Linked DNA regions of Homo sapiens. The protein of the gene in region 4 purifies or fractionates together with the protein of the main gene of each other region. This does not show direct contact. Each region holds a gene or a part of one and is shown on either strand. Other genes may lie near its edges. The genes, in order: TOR3A, TMEM131, HTR1E, TMEM87A, PBXIP1, KLHL22 and COL11A1.

Region 1 (3,500 bases), on a different chromosome or scaffold from region 4:
TTCACTGCCAGAATTTACCAGGGGCTGAGAGCTCCCAGCTGGAGGAGCCCGGCAGGAACAAGGGCCATCTGCAGTGCTTGCTCAAGGTCAGTTGCTCAGCCAGGCTTTCCCCGGGGAAGCTGCTCACACCACTCTTCCACTTTCTGACACTGCCCCTGCTGCAGGAAGGCCTTCCAGGCACATGATCTGTGCACACAGGAGCAGCCACAGTTGCATCAGCTGAGGCAAGACCCTGCTGCCAGGGCATTGCCCCATCCTGCATTCCCCACAGGAGGCAGGCAGCACTGTTTACCTTGGCAGGGGCTGGAAGGCAGGATCCAGGGTGCTGTGAAACCCCACAGAGTGATACTCCCTCACCCCATCCTAGGGGCATGGACTCCAGGGCCTTCTCCATTCTGTAAGGTGCTTACATGGGTAAAGAGAGGTCCCATCACATAGGGCAGGAAGCTTGGCCTGTTTATTTCTGTAACCCCAGTGCTATGTGCGTATCAGGCACTCAGCCTTTAGTAAATAAAGGGACATCTCTGCACATGTGTCTGCACCATCTCCACCCTTCTCAATCTCTCCTGTTTTGTCCCATAGCCAAAGTCCCTTTTCTTCCACCACTTTAGAGGCTTTAATCTCACCCACTGACCCATAACCTGGGGCCCCTCTCTACGCGCCGCCCCTCCCATCTTCAGGACCACCACTCTGGCACCAGCGTTCTACCTTTAGACAGACACTGTCTTTCTGGAGCACCTCAATTCCCTTCCACAGCCTCCCAGCTCATCTGCTGACCTGGATCGCTGGGAAGTCTGGAGGGGCCAGAGGGCACCTCTCTCAACCAGCCCTCATCCCCCGTCTCCAGCCCCTGCCAGGGCTGATCTCACCAGCCCTTATCCCTAAGACCCCAAAGGAAGGGGACTTCAGGCCTCACCAGAGAACTGGTTGTTACTGGTAACAAACCCCATGCTAACTGCTACATCTTTCCTAAAGAACAGACATAGACTCAGTCATCTCTTTGAGCCTTAGTGTTCTCATTTATAAAGTCAGGACTGGACCAATCTAAGCTGTCCTCTCATTAGTCAACAGGCAGCCAACAGACACTGGGGGCTGGAGCGCAAGGCCCACCACGACTCCACAAATAATTTCTATTTGTGTAGTTCTGTAATTTTTCAAAGTCCTTTCTATCCTTTTCCTGACAACAGCACAAAGGAAACAGGCTTTAATTACCCTTGTCACTTTACAGCTCCCATGAGAACAGGGCAGCAGCTCCGATCGCAGAGTTCCACGTTCCTGTCCTGCCACGTGAGCCCATTCCTGCAGCCTTCTATACTTGGCAGAAGTGGGCGAAGTAATGTTACTTTCCTGGTGCCCAGTCACCGGCCCCAATTCCCTGGCCCGGATGAAGGACAGGCTCTGAGCACCACACTCAACTCCCTGCTTCAGCTCCCACCTCCTCTCTCCTGCCACCAGGAGGAAGCCAGCAAAGCCACTGGCAACTCACTTCAAACAGCAGGTTTAGGATTTATTTCAGAATTAAACTGCTGCTCTTCCTTCGTGCAGTATGACTTGGTCACTCTAGCAGTTTGAATCAGCTGTGCTTTTCTTTCATGCCCTAGAATCCTTATTACAGTGGATGATTAACTGAAGCTCATTATAGAAATCAAGTCCAGAGACTCCAATATCAACAGTGTGTCTCCTCCCAGCCATCGCTGGACTACCTGAGAACTTGAGGTTGAGAGGCTGCTGCCCTGGACAGCCTGGGCACAGACTATGTCAGCCCAGCCCTCGGCTGGAGGGGGGAACCTCTGGCTCGTAAAGGCTGGGCACAGGCCCACACCAGAGCCACTAGAACCTAAGGCCACATCTTTTTAATGTGTCCTTTACATCCTTGTCAAAGGCTCCTGGGGGACCTCCCCACCCTGCTGTGGCATGGAGGAGTCTGGCAGGCGGCTTTCCCGCAGGCCCCCCCCCCCACCCCGCCCACAACCACATGGCCTCGGACAGTCCACCCAGGCTGGGTCACTGGGGGAAAGGACAGGCAGCTGGAGGGTGGTGCTGTCAGGTCGACGGCCAAAATACTACAAAGGCTATAACATTTGCCTGGAGACTGCAGGGTCACCGGGTCACGTTAGGCAATCACGGCCCAGGTGAGGTTTTCCAAGCTGAGAAGTGGGTGGGAGAGTCTGTGTGGCCGGCACCACCTGAAGCCGGGAGACCCCTGTCTCGGGGAGAGGGAGGAGGAAGACACTCAGCGCAAGGGAGATCCCTGTGGAAGCGAAAGGGAGGCCCGAGGCTGGGTCACCATGCTTTGCTCCGTGCCGTGGGAAGGACTGGCTTCCGCATCGGTGGTTCAGAGGGTCCCCTGGACTGCCCGACCCAGGGCTCAGGTGGAGAAACCACAGAGCACCCAGGTGACTCCTCTGTTCAGGCTCATCTGCATGTTGCAGCCCCCACCTGACTCTCTGTAACAGGAGGAGAGGTGAGCCCGGCTGCCTCCGAAGGTGGGAAATAGTACAGAACGTGGGAATAAGAACTAACTGGAAGAATGTATTGTCCTCACCTCCTGGTTCTGGGCACCCAAATCATGCAAGAGATCTCTCTCTCCTCTTAAAAATCACCCTGGGCGCCCCACTCCCCTCCCACTTCGCAATGCATTTTAAGTCTCCACAGCTTCACCTGCAGACCAGGAAGGGCTTCCCGCCACTACACAGAAATCCCAACCCAGCAACGGCTTAAACCTGTTTCACTTTTTTTTTTTTTTTTGAGATGGAGTCTCTCTCTTGTTGCCCAGGCGGGAGTGCAATGGTGTGATCTCAGCTCACTGCAACCTCTGCCTCCCAGGTTCAAGTGATTCTCCTGCCTCAGCCTCCCGAGTAGCTGGGATTACAGGCACCTGCCACCACACCCAGCTAATTTTTGTATTTTTAGTAGACAGGCCACTGCGCCTGGACCCTGTTTCACTTCCTCTTGTGAATCCACACCGAAACTAGATCTGCCCTCCACAGCTCAACCCTTCACCCCTCCACACTCCCCAAGCTAGGATGAAAATCAGCATCCCCTCACCAACTTCCCCATCCTCACAAAGTGAGCCCTGCAGCTTGGGAAACCCCCCCAGCAAGCAAGTGCTGGCCTGGGGAAGGCGAGGCCGGAGTGGAGTTGGGAAGGGAGCACTCAGTTTGACTCCTACCGAGGCTCGAGCTGTTGTGAAGCCTTCAAATTGGGTCAACAAGGGCCCAAACTTGACTTGTAACAGACACAGGACTCCCCCAGTTGGAGCCTCCGCAAAAAGATGAGGTTGGACAAGTTATTTCTAAGTTGGCTTCACGCAAAGATGTCAGTGAAAGCACAGGAACCTCAGTGCAGTGATTCAGTGACTGGGTCCCGCATGGTAGCGTCACAACTGAACTACAGGTACTCAGAGGAAGCATGGGTTTCTCAACCCGTATACCCTGGATTTTAAGCCAGTGATGACTTCTCATAATCGGAGAAGAAACAGACTTCCAAGGCTGAAGGAA
Region 2 (3,500 bases), on a different chromosome or scaffold from region 4:
TTTAAATTAACACATGGAAATAAAAATGATTTATTTTGTTCTTGTTGTTTTTTTTAATAGTTATTTGGGATTTGATCATGCTGCAACATTATTTCACATCCGAGACAGCCCTGCTGATCCTGTGGAAAGGCCAATTTACCTTACTAACACTTTCAGTTTTGCGATCCTCATTCACGATGTGTTGCTACCAGAAGAAGCCAAAACAATGTTTAAAGTATGTCCAGGAGCCCTCATACTTTTAATTTTCCTGGTCTACCAACTAGGTGATGCTGACACTTTGTTTTTTTTCTCTTCTGTCATTTCTCAGGTTCACAACTTCAGCAAACCAGTCTTAATTCTTCCTAATGAATCAGGATACATTTTTACCCTGCTTTTTATGCCTTCCACATCATCCATGCACATTGATAACAACATTTTACTTATTACCAATGCTTCTAAATTTCATTTACCCGTGCGGGTATACACAGGCTTTTTAGATGTAAGTATATTATCCATCTTTAACATTTAAACTCCCTGCCCACCTTTAATGTTTTCAGATCTTATTAGGCAGTCGTGTTACATACGGTTTGCCATTATTTGTGCTCTGCAAATTGATCTAATTCTCCTAGTCAGTTTTTACCTTTCCAGGTAACTAGTTTTTACCTTTTCTGGCAGCTCTCTCTTGTGATACAGTTGACTTCTCTAGTTACAGTCTCTACTTAGATCTTTTCCACATTCTGCTTTCTCTTGGATATGCTTTTAAACTATTGTAATAATGGGGAATATAGAAAAGAACTAAATAGAAAAATGATAGGTAGAAAAAGAATAATACAAGGAAGGTGAAGAGGGATATACGTAGGGAAGAGATGATCAAAACCAAGAAATATCGGGACAAAGAAGAGAATCAGATAGTAAAGAAGAAAATAAGGTAGTAAAGACGCAAAGTTGGAAGATTATATATGACACAGAAGGAAACAATGAAGGTACTCCTGGTACAGAAAATAAGCAGGGGGAAAAATTCCAAACAAAGCTATCTTGAGAGTGATCAATGAAAGAAGCTTAGATAAGAGAGAAAACTGTTAGGAAAGATAAAAAGAAAGCTAGGACATCTAGAAATGTAGCCCTTTAAATAGTTGGCATCGATTAGAATTTTAGAGCTGGAGGGACCTTCAGTAATGTCTCGCTCCTGCTTCAGTTATTTTGTTTCAGTGATCATTGGTGATGCTTGCTGAGACCACATGCTTTTTGCCCGATCCCCTAGGGTTCCACTAAACCTCTCTTAGTAGTTTAGCTTCCTGCCTCTTTCATGTGCCCTCAGAGGAAGAATAGCAACTCAGCAGAAGCCATGGCTGTTTTCATTTCTGATTACTCAAAAGACTTTCGTCATACAAAGCCCTCAACTATGTCGTATAAATGTGTGGTTTTATGCATATATACAAAAGCATAGGAAAGCATAGAACTGTAATTTTTTTTTTTTTTAGATGGAGTCTCGCTGTGTTTCCCAAGCTGGAGTGCAGTGGTGCAATCTTGGCTTGCGGGTTCAAGCGATTCTCCTGCCTGAGCTCAGCCTTCCGAGTAGCTGGGATTATAGGTGCACACCACCATGCCCAGCTAATTTTGGGGGGAACTTTAATACATCTTTAATATAGTTACTTTCTCTTCATAATATTGTTAGATCAATGTGACTTTTTTTTAATCTGGTTCTTTTATATCTTTCCAGTACTTTGTATTGCCCCCCAAAATAGAGGAACGTTTCATAGATTTTGGAGTACTGAGTGCTACAGAAGCAAGTAATATTTTATTTGCAATTATAAACAGCAATCCAATTGAGGTAAAAACCTGTTTTTATTCTAAATCACATTTAAGGATTTTATGCTTGTGTTGTGATAATCATTTTCATATCTTTTTTTAAAGTTGGCTATAAAAAGTTGGCATATCATAGGAGACGGTTTATCAATAGAACTTGTAGCTGTGGAAAGAGGCAATAGAACTACAATAATTTCAAGCCTGCCAGAGTTTGAAAAATCCTCTTTATCAGATCAATCATCGGTAAGTAAACTTTCTATTGTCTCCTTAAAGTAAGATGGATGTCTAAACTGCAAGTGGAAGATCATTGCTATGCTACATGTATCACTATTATTTTTATGCAGTTCATAATAGTGTTGGTTACTTGCTATTAAAAGGACCTTATAGGTAATGTAATTCAACCCCCTATTTTTATGATGAGGGCACTGAAACCCAAAGGGGTTTAATTCTGCCTTGTCATAAAAAGTTCTATAACACACAAATTTTTAATTATCTTTTTGTAACACAAGTGTCATTACAGGAGAGATTCCCATGGGTACTAAACTAACCTTGTGTTCATTGAGTTTACTGGGAAAAAGAGATGGCCCTGAACATTGGTAGAAAATATTTTCAATTATGCAATAATACGTCTGTCCAGATACTGCCTCAGTATCAGTGAGGCAAACATTGTTTGATCACTGTGAGTCTGCCCACATATTTTTACCTGTCTAATAAACATGTTACAGTTGGTTGTCAGAGAGCGCTAAACAAGAGAAAACAAATTTATTAGTTTCAGCACTCACCAGTACTGAAAGGGGAACTTGGAGTTTATACCTACTGGGAAAAGAATTAGAATCACAATCTGTGAGAAGGAGCATCAGATAATCTCATCTGCAGGTTAGAATAGAATTTCTTGGGGCAGTTTTACAAAAGGAAAAGCAAGTGTCCTTATACACAGAGAGTGTTGACAAACACGTTTCCGTGGAATGCCATAGGTCTGGTGTTTTGTTATATCTGACCTCAGCTGCCCTGAAGATATGAATATTAACATTACAGAGTGACATCCACAGCTTGAAGCAGAGCCAGCTGTGTATACAATTGTGGCTCCAGTGTGCCTGAAAGGTTGGTGGAAGGCTGTGTCCCTCTGCTCCAGCCCCTTTGGCCATACAGGTCCATGGGTAAAGAGTGAGGAGCTTTATTAGCAAGAGGACCACACCCCTCCCTCTTTCAGGAACCAGCTTTTTCAGTGGCCCATGGAACAAGTGTAGTAGAGAAATATCAAGGGATGGACACTATTTTGAGATATTTGTACACAGTGATATGGTAATTCAGTGTCATACTGGTATATGTTAGGATTTGTTAGTCATTTTATCGCTACACCCTTCATGTCCATTTTAATAGGAAACTTCAACTAACAAGGCTAATGAATGATACCATTTCTACTATCTACAGGTAACATTAGCTTCAGGCTATTTTGCAGTCTTCAGAGTCAAACTTACTGCAAAAAAATTAGAGGGGATTCATGATGGAGCCATCCAGATCACAACAGACTATGAGGTAAGGACTTTATGGGGATTCATGGCAGTGGGGTTTTTCTGAATAAGTCAGTCCTTTCTTGTCTTTATGAAACCAAAGAATTAAGTTTACTCAGAGTTACAGTTTACCAGTTTCATACCTTAAAAACTGAGCTTTCGAGAATAGTTTATAGAATATTGATGTTCATAGGCTCATAGTTT
Region 3 (4,125 bases), on a different chromosome or scaffold from region 4:
GAGAGGCGCTCTAGAAGGCAGGAGAAGGGCACACAGGCTCGCTTTTTGAACTGAAGAAGGGTTTCATTTGGTTTAGAATTGTCAAACTTCAAAAAATAAATAAATAACTTAAAGTGTTTTTCAAATCAGCCATAAGGCTACAAACCAGAAAGAAAAGTGTGAGGCAGGTGTTTGGGGCAGCTACCCAAGTTGCCTACATGGTTTCCAAGGTCCTTTCAACTCTAAGGTTTGTGTATCAGGCTGTCTACAGATCATACTGTCTCCATAAGATTGTCTAGTTCATTTTATGGCTAGTTTGAACAATCTGATTTTCTTTTTTACAATGGCAGGGGCTCAATCCATGTTAGGCTTCAATGTTGAGTCACCCAAGTTCTCCACAGAGAATAACCAACCAGCCGTAAGGAAGCTTCTTTTAGCAATGCCAGGATTCTGCAAAGTCCCTCCCAGCTTAACTTTTCTGACCTTGCGGCAGCAGAACAACAAAAAGAACAGCCCCTGGCACCCTCAGAAGAGCACAAAGCCCTCTGACAACCTGAGATGGCGCCCAGGTAGACTTCCCTCAAAAAAAAAAAAAATGGCAAGGCTGCTTCAGCAGGTCTTTCAGCCCCAACCACTCCACTCTCCGTCTCCTTTTCTTCACTGCTTTCCCCACCTCTCTTCCCCCCTTCCACTTTGACCCACCCCAATTTTCGTCCACTTCTCCCTCACCCCTTCCTTGTAATCTCTCTCCTTGAGGCATCCTGTGGATGTTGACTGTAATCTCCCCTGGAGGAGGGCTAAGAAATGCACCTCCAGAGGGTCTGTTTGCCATTGGAACCGCGTAGAGAAAGCGTGCAAACCCGTCAACTGCTCCCGCCGTTCCTCTCCCTCCTCAACCCAGGCTCGCTACAGAAGAAGGGAGTAGGGTCTGCCCCCTTGTTGTATCTATTTTCCCCTTCTCCGCCAGGGCTGTGGCCGGCAAGGGGCTCAGGAGGTGAGTCCCTTGCCCACACCTCCAACCCCGCTGGCCCGGTTTATAACATGGACAGCCCTGCCCTCTAGTGTCTGCAACCGGGAGCCCTAAGGCGCCATCAGCTCCAGAATTTCTCTTTTATAACCTAAGCAAGACCTGGAGTACCTCGGAGCTGCGACCTCCAGTTCACAATACCACCTGCCTCACACCCGGGCTCATCTTTTCATCCCACACCCACCACCCCCCTCTCCGTTCACGGTGTCCCGGGAGGCTGCGACCTGCGTAGATGATTTAGCAGACTGCCCCTGCCCATGCTCCTGCTCCTGCTCCTCCTCCTCCTCTTCCCCGCTCTCTCCCTCTCGCCTCCTCTTCCAGTCCAGGCGCCCAGACTCGGCGAAGCGCAGCGCCTGCCACCAGCGGTGCCTCGGGCTGCCCGGCGCGCCGCGCTCCCAGGTTCTGTCTCGCCGCACCCCGGCGGGCACTGGCGCGGGCAAGGACGCTGGCGGGGAGAACGCCCTGGGCTCAACGTACTCCAGAATCGAATGTTGAGAGAAGCAGTGCTCTGATCCAGCTCAGGAGAAAAAGGAGCGGGTTCCGAGTGAGACTTCTGGAGCCAGCTGGACGTGCCGGTTTGCCCAGTGCGGCGCGGCTGCACGCACCGTCCACAAGGTGAGGGGCGCACACCTTCCGGGACGACCTTGGCTTCCCTTCTTACCCCCACCCACTCCAGGTACTCCAGCTCTGGCTTGGGGATGTTTGCCAGCTTTGAGGCGCAAAGGCGGCGGGAGTTGGGATGCGGGGTGTCGGAGGGAGACTGAGGGTCGCCCGGGCACCGTGCCTGCACCCTGGATTATAGTACAGAGAGCATTTCTTGTTCAAACAATTCCTCAAATGTGTGAACCTGAGAATCAACATTGTGTATAACTGTGGTTTGAGCATTTCATCCTGCTTCCTTGCAAAAGGATTAGAGGCAGCTTAAAGATTAAATAGGTATGGAACGGGTGCTGGGGGGGGCCAGGGAAAACTTGAGTAGAAATCACAGGGAGGTGGTGTGCTCCAGGGACCCCGGAAGAACTGTGTGATTTCAAAGCCAGCTGATTAAAAAACCTTTGATTAGAAAGGACTGCACTGTTGCTCCAGCCCTCAGAAAATAATACTGTGCTCAGTCCTGATAAACAAAATGCCCAGGTGTGGAGGTAATGAGGCAGGCTCATTTTTTTTAAAATACAAAATAAATCTTGGAAGTAAGAGTTAAGATGAGAAGTTTGGTCTTAAGCCATCTCCACCCAATACTGCAAGGTGAGAGGCTGACCCCCTACCTAACGAAAAGGAAAGGAAATTGAGTCTAAAGGGAAGTGATTCCAGCTCCTATCACAGGATCATAGTGGTTTTGCATCTATATGTATATTTCTGCCTGTGCCCAGTTTTGGAAGAAAGGACCTTGTATTCAACCCAACGCTGCTTGTCCTTGAGTTAGAAGGATAAGGCAGATGGTGTCAGCATCCCAAGGTGTTTCTTCCTAACCTTTCTTATTGTCCTTCCTTGCCTCCTGCACCAAATCTCTTGGGGAGGGAGCAGCCCAGGAGGAAATAATAGATCGTCAAATGGGTTGGGGGAGCAGTGTTTTTTCCAAAATAATTTAGGCTCATTTTATCATTCTTATGTTTTCCCTCAAAGCTCTAAGCAGTACATCGTCCTAAGCTGAATTTAACATTGCTCCAGAATATATATTTATCATAGTTGTACATTCAGACACAATATGCATAACCTTAAACAGCCAGGATGCACTTGTGAATCAGGGGCTTCCCTTACTTAATCCTGCGCAAGAGAGGCAAAGCAGGCACGTGGGTCTGATTCCCTGTGCGGTCTCCTTCATGAGGAGCATATGTGAAATACCTTTGAAATACAGAGAAGATTGAGACAGCTTTTCTCTTTCTGGTACAGTTGCTTTCCTGCTGAATTAAATGAGATGACCCTGTCTTCAACAAATAAATGAATGGAGGCATTTGAGGCCCATTTAACAAATGCACAAAATATGCCTGCCTCTGTTTTTCCTCCCTTCAGAGCTTTAGCCTCCAGCCCACGGAGTTGTGATGATGAAGCCCACCTCCTAAGTGGGACTCAGCTCAGTTTCTGTATCATATTTAAAACAGAGTATGTTGCTTATTTCTAAAATTGCATAGCACCTCACCACTAACTATTTTGCTGCATAGAGGTATTTCATCACTAAGAGAGCTATATAGAGAAACTCACTCAAATCCTGATTCATCATTGTTGATAGAACTTAACTATTGTGTCATCATCACCTGACATGGGCTGCAGAAGCTCCAAGGATTGCTATAGATCTCAATTGAGACTTCTAGTAACAGAGCTAGAAAGGAGCCTTTTAAAGTGTAGCCATGACTCTGGTCATTAGGTATATGCATGTTCAAATATTCCCTTACGTGCTTGTTTTCGCTTTCATAACAATTTCCAGGGATGAAAACTTAGCAGATTATTTTTATAATGAAGAGTATTCAAATTAACAATGTGTATCCACCAGCTAACAAGTTTTAAATTCCACAGAAATCAGCATCACAAGCATAGTAAAATCAAGTTTTCATTCTTTCCTCTTCTGCCATAATGACTTCATTCAAGGCCTAGTCCCAGACCAAGTGCATGGAAACGATGGCTCATGTCTCTCAACATTTGCCCAAGGGAATGGTGCCTACCTTGCAACTCAGCGTGATGTCACCTTTATTAGCCATTCTGGTGTCTATACAAAATATTTGCTCCCCATTTCTTCTTATCGATGCCTGGTCAGCAACAATCATGTAAATAAGTTTCCATTCTTTTGAGGAAGATAACGAAGTCAGCGTTTTTCAGAAGTGGTGCCTAGGAAGAGACAAAATCCAGGACACACCTCTAGTTCAGGTAACACTGCAATATATTTCAATTTCCTGCTGCGTGATGGGGTTATTATTGAAGAGGGAAGTAAGGTATATCATTCACAGCACATTGTCCCCACCTGGCTCAAGCACCACCCATTCCCCAGGTGGGCTCAATATGCTACCCCCACCACCACCAAGATACCAAGGCTGCAAATGAAAAGTAGATCTCAGCCAGGCATGATGGGTCACACCTGTAATTCCAACACTTTAGGAGGCCAAGGCAGGAGGATCACATGAGCCCAT
Region 4 (3,500 bases):
GTAATGGTAGTTTTTCAGTCATTCTTTCAAGTAAATATGGTGTTTCGTGGAAAAAATGATTAGTTTAACTCACAAGTCAAAGCAATTGCAGAGTGCTTTATCTCAAGACAATAATTTATTGTATTTTGCATGCTTTCCATTTTGTCACCTAGATTATTTAAAAAGTCAGGTACTCAAAAGGTCCAGATTTAATAACATTAATAATTTTTACTGCTTTATCTAGGATATTCTTACATAAAAGTGGCATTTTTAAAAACTGCCAGTTTGTGACTATGAAGAATATGACTGCTAGTAGAATTAAATGCCACTGCCTTAGTTCCTGATAAGGGGCAACAGTTTTACCCACTATTGCTTTTGTAATATCGTTACAAGTCAAATAGCATACTATTATTATTATGAAAATAGTTTTTTTTTTTTTGAGATGGAGTCTCACTCTGTCACCCAGGCTGGAGTGCAGTGGCGCGATCTCAGCTCACCACAACCTCTGCCTCCTGGGTTCAAGTGATTGTCCAGCCTCAGCCTCCCAAGTAGCTGGGATTACAGGTGTCTGCCACCACACCCGGCTAATTTTTGTATTTTTAGTAAAGATGGGGTTTTGCCATGTTGGCCAGGCTGGTCTCAAACTCCTGACCTCAGGTGATCCACCTGCCTCAGTCTCCCAAAGTGCTGGGATTACAGGCGTGAGCCATTGTGCCCAGCCATGAAAATAGTTTTGTCTATGGTTCAACGGCCACACTTTTGAGAATTGCCATAATCTAGAATACTTGAGCGTTGAAAATATATTGCTCAAAGAATAAAGCTGGAAGCATCACATTACCTGACTTCAAACTGTACTACAGGGCTACAGTAACCAAAACAGACACAAAGACCAATGAAACAGAGAAGACAGCCCAGAAATAAGGCCGCACACCTACAACCATCTGATATTTAACAAAGCTGACAAAAAACAAGCAATGGGGAAAGGACTCCCTATTTAGTAGATAGTGTTGCGGTAGCGTGCTGGCCATATGCAGATTGAAACTGGACCCCTTCCTCACACCATATTCAAAAATCAACTCAAGATAGATTAAAGACTTAAATGTAAAACCCAAAACTATAAAAACCCTGGAAGACAACCTAGGCAATACCATTCTGGACATGGGAAGTGGCAAAGATTTCATGATGAAGATGCCAAAAGCAATTGCGCCAAAAGCAATTGCAACAAAAGCAAAAATTGACAAATGGGATCTAATTAAGTTTAAGAGCTTCTGCACAGCAAAAGAAACTATCAATAGAGTAGACAGCCTACAGAATGGGAGAAAATATTTGCAAACTATGCATCCAACAAAGGTCTAATATCCAGCCTCTATAAGGAACTTAAACAAATTTATATGCAAAAAACAACCCCATAGAAAAGTGGGTAAAGGACATGAACAGACACTTTTCAAAAGAAGATATACAGCCAACAAGCATATGAAAAAAAAAAAGCTCAGTATCGTTGATTATTAGAGAAATGCAAATCAAAACCACAATGAGATACCATCTCACATCAGAATGGCTATTATGAGAAAGTCAAAGGATAATAGATGCTGGCAAGGTTGTGGAGAAAAGGGAATGCTTATACATTGTTAGTGGGAGTGTAAATTAGTTCAACCACTGTGGAAAGCACTGTGGCAATTCCTCAAAGAGCTAAAAACAGAATTACCATTTGACCCAGCAATCCCATTACTGGGTATATATCCAAAGTAATATAAATCATTCTACCGTAAAGACATATGCACATATATGTTCACTGCAGCACTGTTTACAATAGCAAAGACATGGAATCAACCTAAATGCCCATCAATGGTAAACTGGATAAATGTGGTACATATGCGGCCATAAAAAAGAATGTGATACATATGCAACCATAAAAAAGAATGAGATCATTTCCTTTGCAAGAACACAGAAGGAGCTGGAGGCCATTAACCTTAGCAAACTAACACAGGAACAGAAAGCGAAATACCACGTTTTCACTTATAAGTGGGAGCTGAATGATGAGAACACATGATCACAAAGAGGGGAACGGCAGACACTGGGCCTACTTGAGGGTGGAGGGTGGGAGGAGGGAGAGGATCAGAAAAAATAACTCTTGAGTACTAGGCAGTACCTGGGTGATGAAATAATCTGTAAAACAGTTCCCTGTGAGTTCAGTTTACCTATATAACAAAGTTGCGTATGTATACCGGAACCTAAAATAAAAGTTAAAAAAAAAATATATATATATATATACACACACATATATATAGTTCTGAGTTGAATTTTTCAGACCTTTTCCATTCTGTTTCTATCTCTCAATTTGCATTTTTAAGAAGATTATCCTAGTTCTGTGCTTGCAACAATTTTCTGCTCTATCTTAGCTTATGAGCATGAATATTTTTTTGTTGATGTTGTTAATTTGGTCAAGTAAATCTTTTAAGTATATTTTAATGTGACAAAACCCTCTACACTCTGGCAGTTTCCCAGTCTACTCAGAATTGTTAGTAGAACTATGCCTTGTGAGCCAAAGACTAGAGTCTAATAGTCCTTGAGTCTGATAGTGTTTGATTCTTAGATATTTTTATATAGAGCCTTTATCTGATGCTGTTCATTTTTAAAATAGCAAACTCAAAATTGTATCTGTACTGCAGGTGAACTGTTTGTTGTGCTGTGCTCTTAGTATCTTATTTTTTGGAAGGTGAGTTAACTACTCTGTATTATCTCTTTTTCCAGGCAGAAGAAGTAGAGTTGTATTTGGAAAAACTTAAGGAAAAAAGAGGCTTGTCTGGGAAATATCAAACATCATCAAAATTGTTCCAGAACTGCAGTGAACTCTTTAAAACACAGGTAATCTTTGAAAGTGATTGGAGATAAATAGAATAGGCAAAAATTGGAATGTATATATTTTTGGCTGTATCCACTTCCGACTTCTCAAGTATTTCTTTTGGCAGAAGTAAGTGGAAGCATGTTCTGATAGGTACATAGTCAGCCACTTATACATACTCATCAAAGAGAGGTTGTACTTTGCTTTGTGTGTAAAAAGCAAACCCCCATTTTTTTATTGTGGTAAAATATACACTACATAAAATTTACCATTTTAACCATTTCTAAGTGTATAATACAGTGGCATTAAATATATTCACATTGCTGTGCAGCCATCGACCCATCTCCAGTACTTTTTTTTTCCCCAAGGCAGATTCTTGCTCTGTCCGCCAGGCTGGAGTGCAGTGGCACAATCTCGGCTCACTGCAGTCTCCATCACCCGGATCTAAGCAATTCTTTCACCTCAGCCTCCCAAGTGGCTAGGGCTACAGATTCACACCATTACGCCTGGCTAATTTTTTTTGTATTTTCTGTAGAGACAGGATTTCACCATGTTAGCCAGGCTGGTCTTGAACTCTTGACCTGAAGTGATCCACCCACCTTGGCCTCCCAAAATGCTGGGATTACAGGTGTGAGCCACCGGGCTGAGCCCCATCTCTAGTACTTTTATCATCCCAAAC
Region 5 (3,500 bases), on a different chromosome or scaffold from region 4:
GGAAACAAGACTGTGAGAGCCACACATTGGCTATCCTTAGGTGAATCTAGGAAGTGTGTGCTTATATAAAGATGTAGATGCCGAGGCTCAGGATGGAATTTGGGGATCCCTGTGTCTCATTCATGATGGAGATGGGGTGGAGGATGAAAACCAAATCCTCTGGGTGTTCCAGGCAGGTGGATCACTTGAGCTCAGGAGTTTGAGACCAGCCTGGGAAACATGGCAAAACCCCGTCTTTACAAAAAAATACACACACACACACACAAATTAGCCGGGTGTAATGATGCATGCCTATAGTCTCAGCTACTCAGGAGGCTGAGGTGGGAGGATCGCTTGAGCCTGGGAGGTGGAGGTTACAGTGAGTTGTGATCGTGCCACTGCACTCCAGCCTGGACGACAGAGCCAGACCCTGTCTCAAAAAATAAAAATAAATAAAAATAAATAAATATTAAAAAAAAAAGAAAGAAGATGCAGACCTGAACTAAGGCAGGTACAGTGTGGGTTGTGAACAGGGGTGGACTGTCAAGATGTTTAAGTGTAGAACTGTGAAACTGTCTGGATGTGAGGTGGAGAGGGAGGGCTTAGGTTAGCTAGATGGTGGAAGCAGTGCCTTCCCCTGAATTGGGGAAACACCAGAAAAGAACCAGTTTGCAGAGCAGTGTGTTGAATGTTTGGTCCCAGAGGGAGTGGCCAGCAGGCAGTCAGACATACAGGCTTGGAGCTCTGGGAGGCCAAGTGAGGAGTTACACACTAAGGACTCATTGCTGAAGGGGGGTGTCAGTGGTGTGGGTCAGAGAATTGTGACTATGTGTACAGTGAGAAGAGCAGAGAACCTGAAATGGTGCCAGGGAGACCACTGACTTTAGGATCAGGGAAGAGCCAGGGAGGGAGAATGGGAAGGAGTGGCCAGAGAGTTTGGAGGCAACCCAGGAGGGTGGTAATAGCTGCAGAAGTTTGATGCACAGCGCACACTGAGGAAGGAGGATGCTTTCAGGATGAAAATGGCTTTTATAGCTCGTAGATTGACAGCACTGGTCTCCTGCCTCCAGACTGGGCAGGGACAGTCATCAATGCCCAGGCAGAAGTGGGCAAGTGGGCAAGGTCTTCATGTGCCCCTCTCTGGGGTCAGGGCTGACGACCTCCCTCCCTGTGCCTTCCTCTGATTCCCCTCTCTCCCTGTGTCTCCCCATCTCTCCAGTCACCTCACTGCCCTGTCCCTGTCCTTTCCCCTAGCTTGGATCAGGGAGGAGGGCCGCTGCTCCAGCAGTGACGATGACACCGACGTGGACATGGAGGGTCTGCGGAGACGGCGGGGCCGGGAGGCCGGCCCACCTCAGCCCATGGTGCCCCTGGCTGTGGAGAACCAGGCTGGGGGTGAGGGTGCAGGCGGGGAGCTGGGCATCTCCCTCAACATGTGCCTCCTTGGGGCCCTGGTTCTGCTTGGCCTGGGGGTCCTCCTCTTCTCAGGTGAGTGGTACCTCTGAGGCTGGGGCTTTGGGCTTCCATGCCTGCCTGCCTTCCTGCCATGTTCTCACCTTACCTCACATCACCCCTCCCCGAGGGCCTCATCAGACTCCTCTGTCTCTGTCCTTAGGTGGCCTCTCAGAGTCTGAGACTGGTGAGTAGGGAGGAGCCTGTCTTGTGCTGGGGAGTTGTATGTGTTCTCTGGTTCTGTGGGTCAGGAGTAGGGGTGCTGGGGGCTCACATTTATTTCTCAGTTAGTGGCCTTGTCAGCTGTTCAGGGTGCCCCTTGGCCCTTTATCTCACCAAACCGCTCAGCCACAGGGTGGGTCCTGAGCAGGAGTGGTGGCTGTGTGAATGGGAAGGTGTGGGGAGAATGGGCTCTGTGTGCCTCAGGACCAGTTTCAGGGTTTCCCTTTCCCACAGGGCCCATGGAGGAAGTGGAGCGGCAGGTCCTCCCAGACCCCGAGGTGCTGGAAGCTGTGGGGGACAGGCAGGTATGTGTGAATGTCTCCAGAGGCAGGTGGGGCCTGGCTGGGGAGAACCTGGGCTGTGGGGTAGCATGGCATAACAGGCTCTTCTGCCCTCAGGATGGGCTAAGGGAACAGCTGCAGGCCCCAGTGCCTCCTGACAGTGTCCCCAGCCTGCAAAACATGGGTCTTCTGCTGGACAAGCTGGCCAAGGAGAACCAGGACATCCGGCTGCTGCAGGCCCAGCTGCAGGTGGGCACAGGCAGGAGGGGCTGGGCTAGGGTAACCCACCTAGGCCAGGCGTCTGTCCTAGCATCCTCCCCCAAAAGGAATGTTTCCTATTTACCCACACATCCTGACCCTCCCCTCTCCCACTATAGTCAGGGCGTCTTCCCAGTTCTTGGTTCACATCCCTTGTGCTAAGGTTTGGGCCAGGGCTGGCATACCTGTTCCACATGGTACATGAAACATACATGGTATCACCTGTGATTGATTGGTGTGGTCTGCCTGGAGCACTGTGTGGAAAAGGATTTAAAGAACATGCCAGGTGCCATGATCAGTTAACACTGTTCCAGGAAATAAGACTGTGAGAGCCACACATTGGCTATCCTTAGGTGAATCTAGGAAGTGTGTGCTTATATAAAGATGTAGATGCCGAGGCTCAGGATGGAATTTGGGGATCCCTGTGTCTCATTCATGATGGAGATGGGGTGGAGGATGAAAACCAAATCCTCTGGGTGTTCCAGGCTGTAAAACGGGCTCAGGCCACCTGCCCACTATAATAGAATGGAATTGGGGTAGAAGGCATTGGGGCTATCCTGACAAGAACTCTTTGTGACTTCCTTTGTCCCAAACCATATTCTAGGCCCAAAAGGAAGAGCTTCAGAGCCTGATGCACCAGCCCAAAGGGCTAGAGGAGGAGAATGCCCAGCTCCGGGGGGCTCTGCAGCAGGGCGAAGCCTTCCAGCGGGCTCTGGAGTCAGAGCTGCAGCAGCTGCGGGCCCGGCTCCAGGGGCTGGAGGCCGACTGTGTCCGGGGCCCAGATGGGGTGTGCCTCAGTGGGGGTAGAGGCCCACAGGGTGACAAGGCCATCAGGGAGCAAGGCCCCAGGGAGCAGGAGCCAGAACTCAGCTTCCTGAAGCAGAAGGAACAGCTGGAGGCTGAGGCACAGGCATTAAGGCAAGAGTTAGAGAGGCAGCGACGGCTGCTGGGGTCTGTACAGCAGGATCTGGAGAGGAGCTTGCAGGATGCCAGCCGCGGGGACCCAGCTCATGCTGGCTTGGCTGAGCTGGGCCACAGATTGGCCCAGAAACTGCAGGGCCTGGAGAACTGGGGCCAGGACCCTGGGGTCTCTGCCAATGCCTCAAAGGCCTGGCACCAGAAGTCCCACTTCCAGAATTCTAGGGAGTGGAGTGGAAAGGAAAAGTGGTGGGATGGGCAGAGAGACCGGAAGGCTGAGCACTGGAAACATAAGAAGGAAGAATCTGGCCGGGAAAGGAAGAAGAACTGGGGAGGTCAGGAGGACAGGGAGCCAGCAGGAAGGTGGAAGGAGGGCAGGCCAAGGGTGGA
Region 6 (3,500 bases), on a different chromosome or scaffold from region 4:
AGCTGCTTGTGGCCTCACCTCCCGAAGCTCACATGGGACTCCTTGGGCCCATGAAAAGGGAAACAGGACAATTTCCAGGATGGCTGCCCAGACTTCGTCAGGATCCTTTTGTGGGATGGCTCATGCATGCACACAGTTCACTCAGAGCACAGAGTGGGTCAGCCCACTACCAGGGCCCTGCCACCAGCGCCAGGTTCTTCTCTGAATGCTGTCACTCTTGGCAACATGGGCTTAAGTCCCTGTTGGTATAACTCCATTTTCTTGTGTCTTCACTTTGCAGAGGAATGTTTGCTGGGGGATTGAAGGAGATGGAACAGGAAGAGGTCCTGATCCACGGTGTGTCCTACAATGCTATGTGCCAAATCCTACATTTCATATACACCTCCGAGCTGGAGCTCAGCCTGAGCAATGTACAAGAGACACTGGTGGCTGCCTGCCAGCTTCAGGTGAGGCATGTCTCATCTAGCAAGGCAGACCCACACCCAGGTGGGGTTCCCTGAGATGCCCATGATGCCTGCCGGGCACTAGCATTGGCTTGAAGATGGGTCAGGAATGTGAGGAGACCAAGCAGTGACGAAGGCCATGAAGTGGGGAAGACTCTGGAGTTGTTCCTGGAGCTCAAGCAGAGCCGCTCTAGACACCCCAGGCCTCTGCCTTTGCCCTCTTCTCTATTGCTGGTTGTTTCCCCACTGTCTGAGTCTCCCTGTCATTGAAAGCATCCTGCACATAAGCAGGTAGGCTGACCCGAGGCTGCATGTGGACGTCCTGTGTGCTCTGGGGTCTGGCAATGGGGAGCATCCACCAGCATTGCTGCCAGGGCCCTTCCTGCCTGTCCCCTCACTGGGCCACTTCAGTCTCTTGAAAACTTATGTGTTTTGTTACTGAACTTTATCTATCTATTTGTCTGTCCATCCATCCATCCATCCATGCATGCACGCATCCATCCATCCATCCATGCATGCATGCATCCATCCATCCATCCATCCATCCATCCATCCATCCATCCATCTATCCATCCATCCATGCATGCATCCATCCATGGTGGCAGGCATCCATCCATCCATCCATCCATCCATGCATGCATCCATCCATCCATCCATCCATCCATCCATCCACCCATCCATCCATCCACTCATTCAATTTATTGGAGACAAGCTCTCTCTCTCTTGCCCAGGCTGGAGTGCAGTGGCACGATCACAGCTCACTGCAGCCTCAACCTCCTGGGCTCCAGCAATCCTTCTGCCTCAGCCTCCCAAATAGCTAGGACCTATAGGCATGTGCCACTACACCTGGCTAATTTTTAAATTATTTTTATAGAGATAGAGGCTTGCTTTGTTGCTTAGGCTAGTCTTGAACCCCTGGCCTCAAGTGATCCACCTCAGCCTTCCAAAGTGTTGCGATTACAGGTGTGAGCCACTGCGCCTGGCCTATTTTTTTTTTTTTTTTAAAGACAGGGTCTCACTCTGTTACCCAGGCTGTAATGCAATGGCATGATCATAGTTCACTGTAGCCTCCACCTCCTAGGCTCAAGTGGTCCTCCCGCCTCAGCCTTCTGAGTAGCTGGGACTAAAGATGCGTGCCATTGTGCCTAGCTGATATTATATATATATATATTTTTTTATAGGAATGGGGCCTTGTTATGTTGCCCAGGCTGGTCTCAAGCTCCTGGCCTCAGGTGATACTCCCACCTTGGCTTCCCAAAGTTCTGGGATTACAGGTGTGAGCCTCTGTACCCAACCTGTTATTGAACTTTAAGTACTTGTTTTCCTGCAGAATTCAAAAAGTTTTCTGAGGCTTTGACAGTGTGACTTATGTTTTGGATGATTATTCTCAGTGGTGTGGGTGCAGTTACACGGGACTGGGCCTGCAGGTGCCTTTGAGCTATCAGGCAGAGGCCTGATAGGAGTTGACAGTCACCTCTTCCCACATTTCTTAAAAGTGAAACAAAATGCTATGCTAAGTTCATCATTCTGACCTTTCTTCCCATGAGAGCAGGTTTGACGCAATTAAAAAAAAACAACTCAAGTCACAGGAAAACCAACCTGTTCGGGGGCATGTGGAGGTGCCACCCCATGTGACAGGGCCCTGGCAGCCTCCCTGTGCCCTGTTCTCAGATTGGTGGATAGGACCTGGATGCTGGGTGGGTTGATCTGAGATGACTGACTTGTCTCACCATACCTGCATGGTGAGTAGATGGAGTTGGCTTTTACAACAAAAGAATTTCCCCCTGTTCTTTTATTTAGAGATCTCTTCTGTCCCCACATCCCTGTCATTGTTGCTTTGGGAACCCTCATCCAATTCTCCACCCTGGCAGCAGTTAACTCCTGATTCAGCTGCCTCTGAAACATCTCCCCCAGCATGGCTCAGGTCCAGCTGTCCTATCTCCTCCTCCACACCTGCCACTCTCCCGGAGCTCCCCTGTCAGTCCCCCTGCTCTGTGTGTCCTGTGACCATCCTGCCAGTTCCCTGGGCTCAACCTCAGTGGCTCCTTGAGCCCGTCCACCTTCTTAATTCCCTGCGTCCATGTGAGGACAGGTCATCCTTCTCGGTATTGCTTGTAGCCATCTCTGTTCTGTGTTTCCATTTCCTTCCCTTTTGCCTGGCCTCCATCTGTATGTTTCTGCCATTTCTTTCTTCTCCCTGCAGTGATCACACACACTGAAACCAGATCATCTTTCTAACATCACTTTCCCTCTCTCACCAGTCAGCTTGGAGGCCTGCAGTCTCTCTCTGTTGGTTTGGCCAGTGCTCCCGACAGCCCTGGGTCATCTCCCCCAGTGCCTCAGAGGTCATCTCAGAGGCAGCAGCCTATCTTAGTTTTTTAACATATCAGGCTTCTGGGCCAGGCTTGGAGGTTCATGCCTGTAATCCCAGCACTTTTGGAGGCCAAGGTGAGAGGATTGCTTGAGGCCAGGAGTTTGAGATCAGCCTGGGCAACAAAGCGAGACCTCTACAGAAGCACTTTAAAAATAGCCGGGCATGGTGGCATGCACCTGTAGTTCCAGCTACTCGGGAGGCTGAGGTGGGAGAATCACTTGAGCCCAGGAGGTGGAGGCTTCAGTAAGCTGTGATCACCACACCACTACATGCCAGCTTATCTCAAAACAAAAAACAAACAAACAAAAAAAAACAGGCTTCTTCACAATATTGTTTTATAGCAGGTTTTACTTGGCATAACCATGTCAAGTCCATAGGCCTGTAGAATCATGTATGTTCACATAGCTAGTGACTTTTGGAGGCTTCCCCCATGTGTTGTGCCCTGCAGTAGGCCTGGGACCAGATTCTTCACGGTGTCCCCAGAGGCCTGAGTCTGATTCCCAGTAACACTGTCCTATTGGGTTACCCCAAGCAAATGCAGTCCCTTCTGTGAGCCTCGTATGGGGCTTTTGCACATCCTGAGCCCAGGCTGGTTCCTCTGTGAGATTTCACTGAACAGAAGGCCCACTGCTCTAAAAATAGGACTGAAAGGAGAGTCAGCAGGGTCCTCTCAAGGAGCTGCT
Region 7 (3,500 bases), on a different chromosome or scaffold from region 4:
ACTGCAACTGATAAATAGATATTACTCACTAAATCACTTTAAAATTGTCTTTCATCTTTGCTACAAGCTAGTATTATTCATGTTGAGTTCTGACACAAGTGAACATATAAAAGAATACACTTACCTATATCAATAAAACCATATTAGGGTTTTGAAGGAAGGAGAAAGAAATACATTAGATGCATTCTAAAACAGAAAGTATTTTAAAATGGAAAAAAAATACCTTTAGGTTTTGAATTAAATTGCAAGAGAATTTAGAAGGAATATGTCCTCATGTAGAAAGTGCGTTAGTGTATACTGAAAGCTACACTGAAAACTGCATTTAAAGTTGACTCTTTAGTGAAAGAACTTAGGGAACATTGCAACTTTTTATAACATCAGCGTTTATCTCTCTTCTTTGCTAAGGAACAAAACTTGAATGGTCAAAAAAGAAAAAGTTTGGTTTCCTCTCACCACTCCCAACTCAGGTCACATTTCCCCAGTATTACATGAGGGAAGTGAAGGAGTAAAAGCAGAAATGCTGACCAACGCTCAGTCCCCACTTGCAGTTGCCTTGAATTCCTAATGATCACGCCATCCATGCTTGATTACTTCTCCAAAAGTAAGGAGAAAATAAAAGTGTATCTAATAAAATTCTGGCTTTTAAATACCTAAACATAATCATTAAAAATTGTATACAATGATGGAGATATCTCAGCATTTTTTAAACTCCATATTTACATAAAATGGTATAGTTAATTGTGAGTATAAAAACTCATGATAAATGCTTTCACAGTATAATCTTCAGGACCCTATGGCCATGTATTGCTTTTCCCTAAAAACAGAAAGACTCTTAATTTGGTGGGAATACTAGTTGAAGACTGGACTTCTAGAAATAAATTTTGAGATAGAAAATCAAAATTTTCCTCCCTTACATCCCTGCAATTTCACATGTGGTAATTAAATTTGTAATAGTTGTTGACAACACAACAGATATCATGGTAGCCTACTAAGAGTGACTACTTCCTATACATTAACTGCCCATTTATGCCTAAGCTAACAGATACTTATGTAATTTCAGATACTTTGACAATCCAAAATAAAAACCTTTATTAGAATTTGCACTACTACGTTCTCTCCTATTTTTTTCTTCAGTTTGCCACTTGTTTAAAAAAAAACTGTTAAACAAACAACACACAAGTGTGTCATAATGATTATCTGACATTAATAAAAGTCATACTATATGTATACATAAAATATATGTCATCCAATCAATTGAAATTAACCTGAAAATATCAGAAATTTGCCATTTTTTATTTGAAATAAATATATAATTTTCTAAGCTTCTTAGAAATTCAAAGTTGGACCTAGTCTTCTATTAACAACTTTAGAGAGCATACAAAACTATGTTCTTAATCCAGCAATGAATAGAGTATTACGCCTTCTACTTTGATGTAATCTTATAAAATGACATAATTAAGAATACAAATGATCAAAAATTACCTTTCTTCAAAGGTAGTAAATAGAGTATTTAAAAAATTCATTCTGTAACTATTTTCTATTTAAATTTCTTTATATAAGACATTTTCACTATATCTACCTTCTCACTAATCTAAACTCTAGCAAATATATGGTCTAATAATTTCAGACTTCTGGAAATAAATATAGCGATAATATATCGAATTCTTTCTCTTTTACTTCCTTGTAATTTCACATATGGTAATTAAATTTGTAATAGTTGTTGATTGCACAACAGATATCATGGTAGTCCATTGAGAGTGAGTACTTCCCATAAATTAAATGTCAATTTTTTCCTGAGCTAAAAGGTACTTACATTAGTTTCAGGTGTTTTGACAATCCAAAATAAAACTTTAATTAGAACTTGCACTACTAAGTTCTCTCCTCTCATTCCATTGTCTCAGACTTCTATTATTTAAAATTCTTTTGATCACCATTACAGATCTTCACTCTACTCAGAAAAACCTTGAATATTACAAGAATATTTTTTATGAGGAAGAGTATTCAGCTGACAACTTTTTGTGTCTTAGTTTCCTCATTTATTGAGAAGGTAAGATTGATTAGCAATTTCTATAATTTCTAGTGCTAGCATTCTCTTTTAAAAATCTTATATAAACACCTTTTTTTAACCTTTTAAAAATTCAGCTTGTATTACACAGAGACTCTCAACCAAACTTGATTTAAATCCTTGTTATCATGAAATAGCCAGCATCTCACTAAATTAATCAGAGTGAAGAGAATTTATCCTAGGAAAAAGCAAATTTTTAGAAAAGAAAGGTGACTCTTTATACAATTTTCTTAGCTAGAAAGCCAACCCATAAATTTGAAAAGAGATGTTTGCTTTGCTGTATTTTAAGGATAACTTAACATGAACAACCATGTGGTTCTATTTTAGTCACAAATTGAAGAAAATAAAAAACCGAAAAAATATTAATTTTTTACCAATTATGTTATGCAAATACATTTCTCACTTTGCTACTGCATAACTTTGTTTAAAACTATACAAATACCTTTTAGAGAATAACTTCTATAAAGTATCCCCTCAGTTAAGTATTAATTATGAAGCAAATTGTCACTTTAAGATATTAAGAAACTTAATTTCAAAACTAATGGACAACTAGGTAAAAGAATCTGTGCCACCTAAACTGAAGCTATGTGTGTAAAGCATGCAGAAAGGTGTTTCTCTTTAGTCTATATTCTTTCTCTATTATAGTCCTGATCAATTTTGAATTTAAAAAACAAATGGAAAGACATAATATTAATGAGTTTAGCAAACACTGCATTTCTTATCAGAAGCATATCTGAGTTTCTGATTTCTGATTAAGGAACCAAATGGACAAATTCGATCTCTTTGCACTGTTGGACTAGCACATACTCTGGAAGCCAGGACCATTTCACCTGCTGATCCTGGGCACTCAAAACTACACTTCTTCAGGGCTCACTATCGATTCCTGACAAGCTTCCAAAGTTCCCAGTTTGATCAGCCTTTTACAAGATACAGTATTGGCTTAACTGCCAAAGGTTAAATGTAATTTTAATTAGTAAAAAGTGATTCAATTAGATTTTTTTTTTTTAGTGCTTCATTATAGCTAAGTCTAACTCTTACTTAAAACCCTTACATAAACTCATCTATCTTAAGATAATCATAGTGTGGTCACTATGAATTCCAGGTAAACCCCACCTCCTGTGAATAGTAAGTAATGGACTAACTGCCAAAGAATATCAATAAATCGCTGAGATACATCATTTACTTTAAAAATAAACATATATATGAAACATAAAATTGAAGTTAATGTAAATAAATATTTATAAAAATCACACTTAACCTTGTTATTCTAAATCACAGCAAGGATTGATTTTTAATGAGTATAATAAATATTTCCAAGTTATAGTTTGATTTTTCAAAGTAAAATAATATGACTAGGTATGAAGTCATAAATTTTCTTTAATCCATTCACTTCCAAGAAATTTCTCTATATTATTTTCTTTAGAGTCTAACTTTG

What was found.
Region 1: the proteins of TMEM87A (region 4) and TOR3A purify together in Homo sapiens (affinity purification with mass spectrometry; one large-scale study listed by BioGRID and IntAct). This does not show direct contact.
Region 2: the proteins of TMEM87A (region 4) and TMEM131 purify together in Homo sapiens (affinity purification with mass spectrometry; one large-scale study listed by BioGRID and IntAct). This does not show direct contact.
Region 3: the proteins of TMEM87A (region 4) and HTR1E purify together in Homo sapiens (co-immunoprecipitation; one large-scale study listed by IntAct). This does not show direct contact.
Region 5: the proteins of TMEM87A (region 4) and PBXIP1 purify together in Homo sapiens (co-immunoprecipitation; one large-scale study listed by IntAct). This does not show direct contact.
Region 6: the proteins of TMEM87A (region 4) and KLHL22 purify together in Homo sapiens (co-immunoprecipitation; 2 studies listed by BioGRID and IntAct, with this or other methods). This does not show direct contact.
Region 7: the proteins of TMEM87A (region 4) and COL11A1 purify together in Homo sapiens (co-immunoprecipitation; one large-scale study listed by IntAct). This does not show direct contact.

What each region holds. Positions count from the first base shown.
Region 1 is NC_000001.11:179,088,570-179,092,069, reverse strand, and holds part of TOR3A (torsin-3A precursor), read right to left. Parts: intron 1-3,500.
Region 2 is NC_000002.12:97,810,949-97,814,448, reverse strand, and holds part of TMEM131 (transmembrane protein 131 precursor), read left to right. Parts: intron 1-60; coding exon 61-214; intron 215-307; coding exon 308-478; intron 479-1,699; coding exon 1,700-1,810; intron 1,811-1,893; coding exon 1,894-2,028; intron 2,029-3,216; coding exon 3,217-3,321; intron 3,322-3,500.
Region 3 is NC_000006.12:86,936,203-86,940,327, forward strand, and holds the start of HTR1E (5-hydroxytryptamine receptor 1E), read left to right. Parts: upstream 1-1,325; 5' UTR 1,326-1,621; exon of another isoform or gene 1,622-1,682; intron 1,683-4,125. UniProt on the Homo sapiens protein: G-protein coupled receptor for 5-hydroxytryptamine (serotonin). Also functions as a receptor for various alkaloids and psychoactive substances.
Region 4 is NC_000015.10:42,263,434-42,266,933, reverse strand, and holds part of TMEM87A (transmembrane protein 87A isoform 1 precursor), read left to right. Parts: intron 1-2,730; coding exon 2,731-2,844; intron 2,845-3,500. UniProt on the Homo sapiens protein: Potential monoatomic ion channel gated by mechanical force, implicated in normal touch sensitivity through the generation of mechanically activated currents.
Region 5 is NC_000001.11:154,946,100-154,949,599, reverse strand, and holds part of PBXIP1 (pre-B-cell leukemia transcription factor-interacting protein 1), read left to right. Parts: intron 1-1,233; coding exon 1,234-1,467; intron 1,468-1,594; coding exon 1,595-1,618; intron 1,619-1,887; coding exon 1,888-1,958; intron 1,959-2,051; coding exon 2,052-2,183; intron 2,184-2,796; coding exon 2,797-3,500. UniProt on the Homo sapiens protein: Regulator of pre-B-cell leukemia transcription factors (BPXs) function. Inhibits the binding of PBX1-HOX complex to DNA and blocks the transcriptional activity of E2A-PBX1.
Region 6 is NC_000022.11:20,468,296-20,471,795, reverse strand, and holds part of KLHL22 (kelch-like protein 22), read left to right. Parts: intron 1-280; coding exon 281-446; intron 447-3,500. UniProt on the Homo sapiens protein: Substrate-specific adapter of a BCR (BTB-CUL3-RBX1) E3 ubiquitin ligase complex required for chromosome alignment and localization of PLK1 at kinetochores.
Region 7 is NC_000001.11:103,102,023-103,105,522, forward strand, and holds part of COL11A1 (collagen alpha-1(XI) chain isoform A preproprotein), read right to left. Parts: intron 1-3,500. UniProt on the Homo sapiens protein: May play an important role in fibrillogenesis by controlling lateral growth of collagen II fibrils.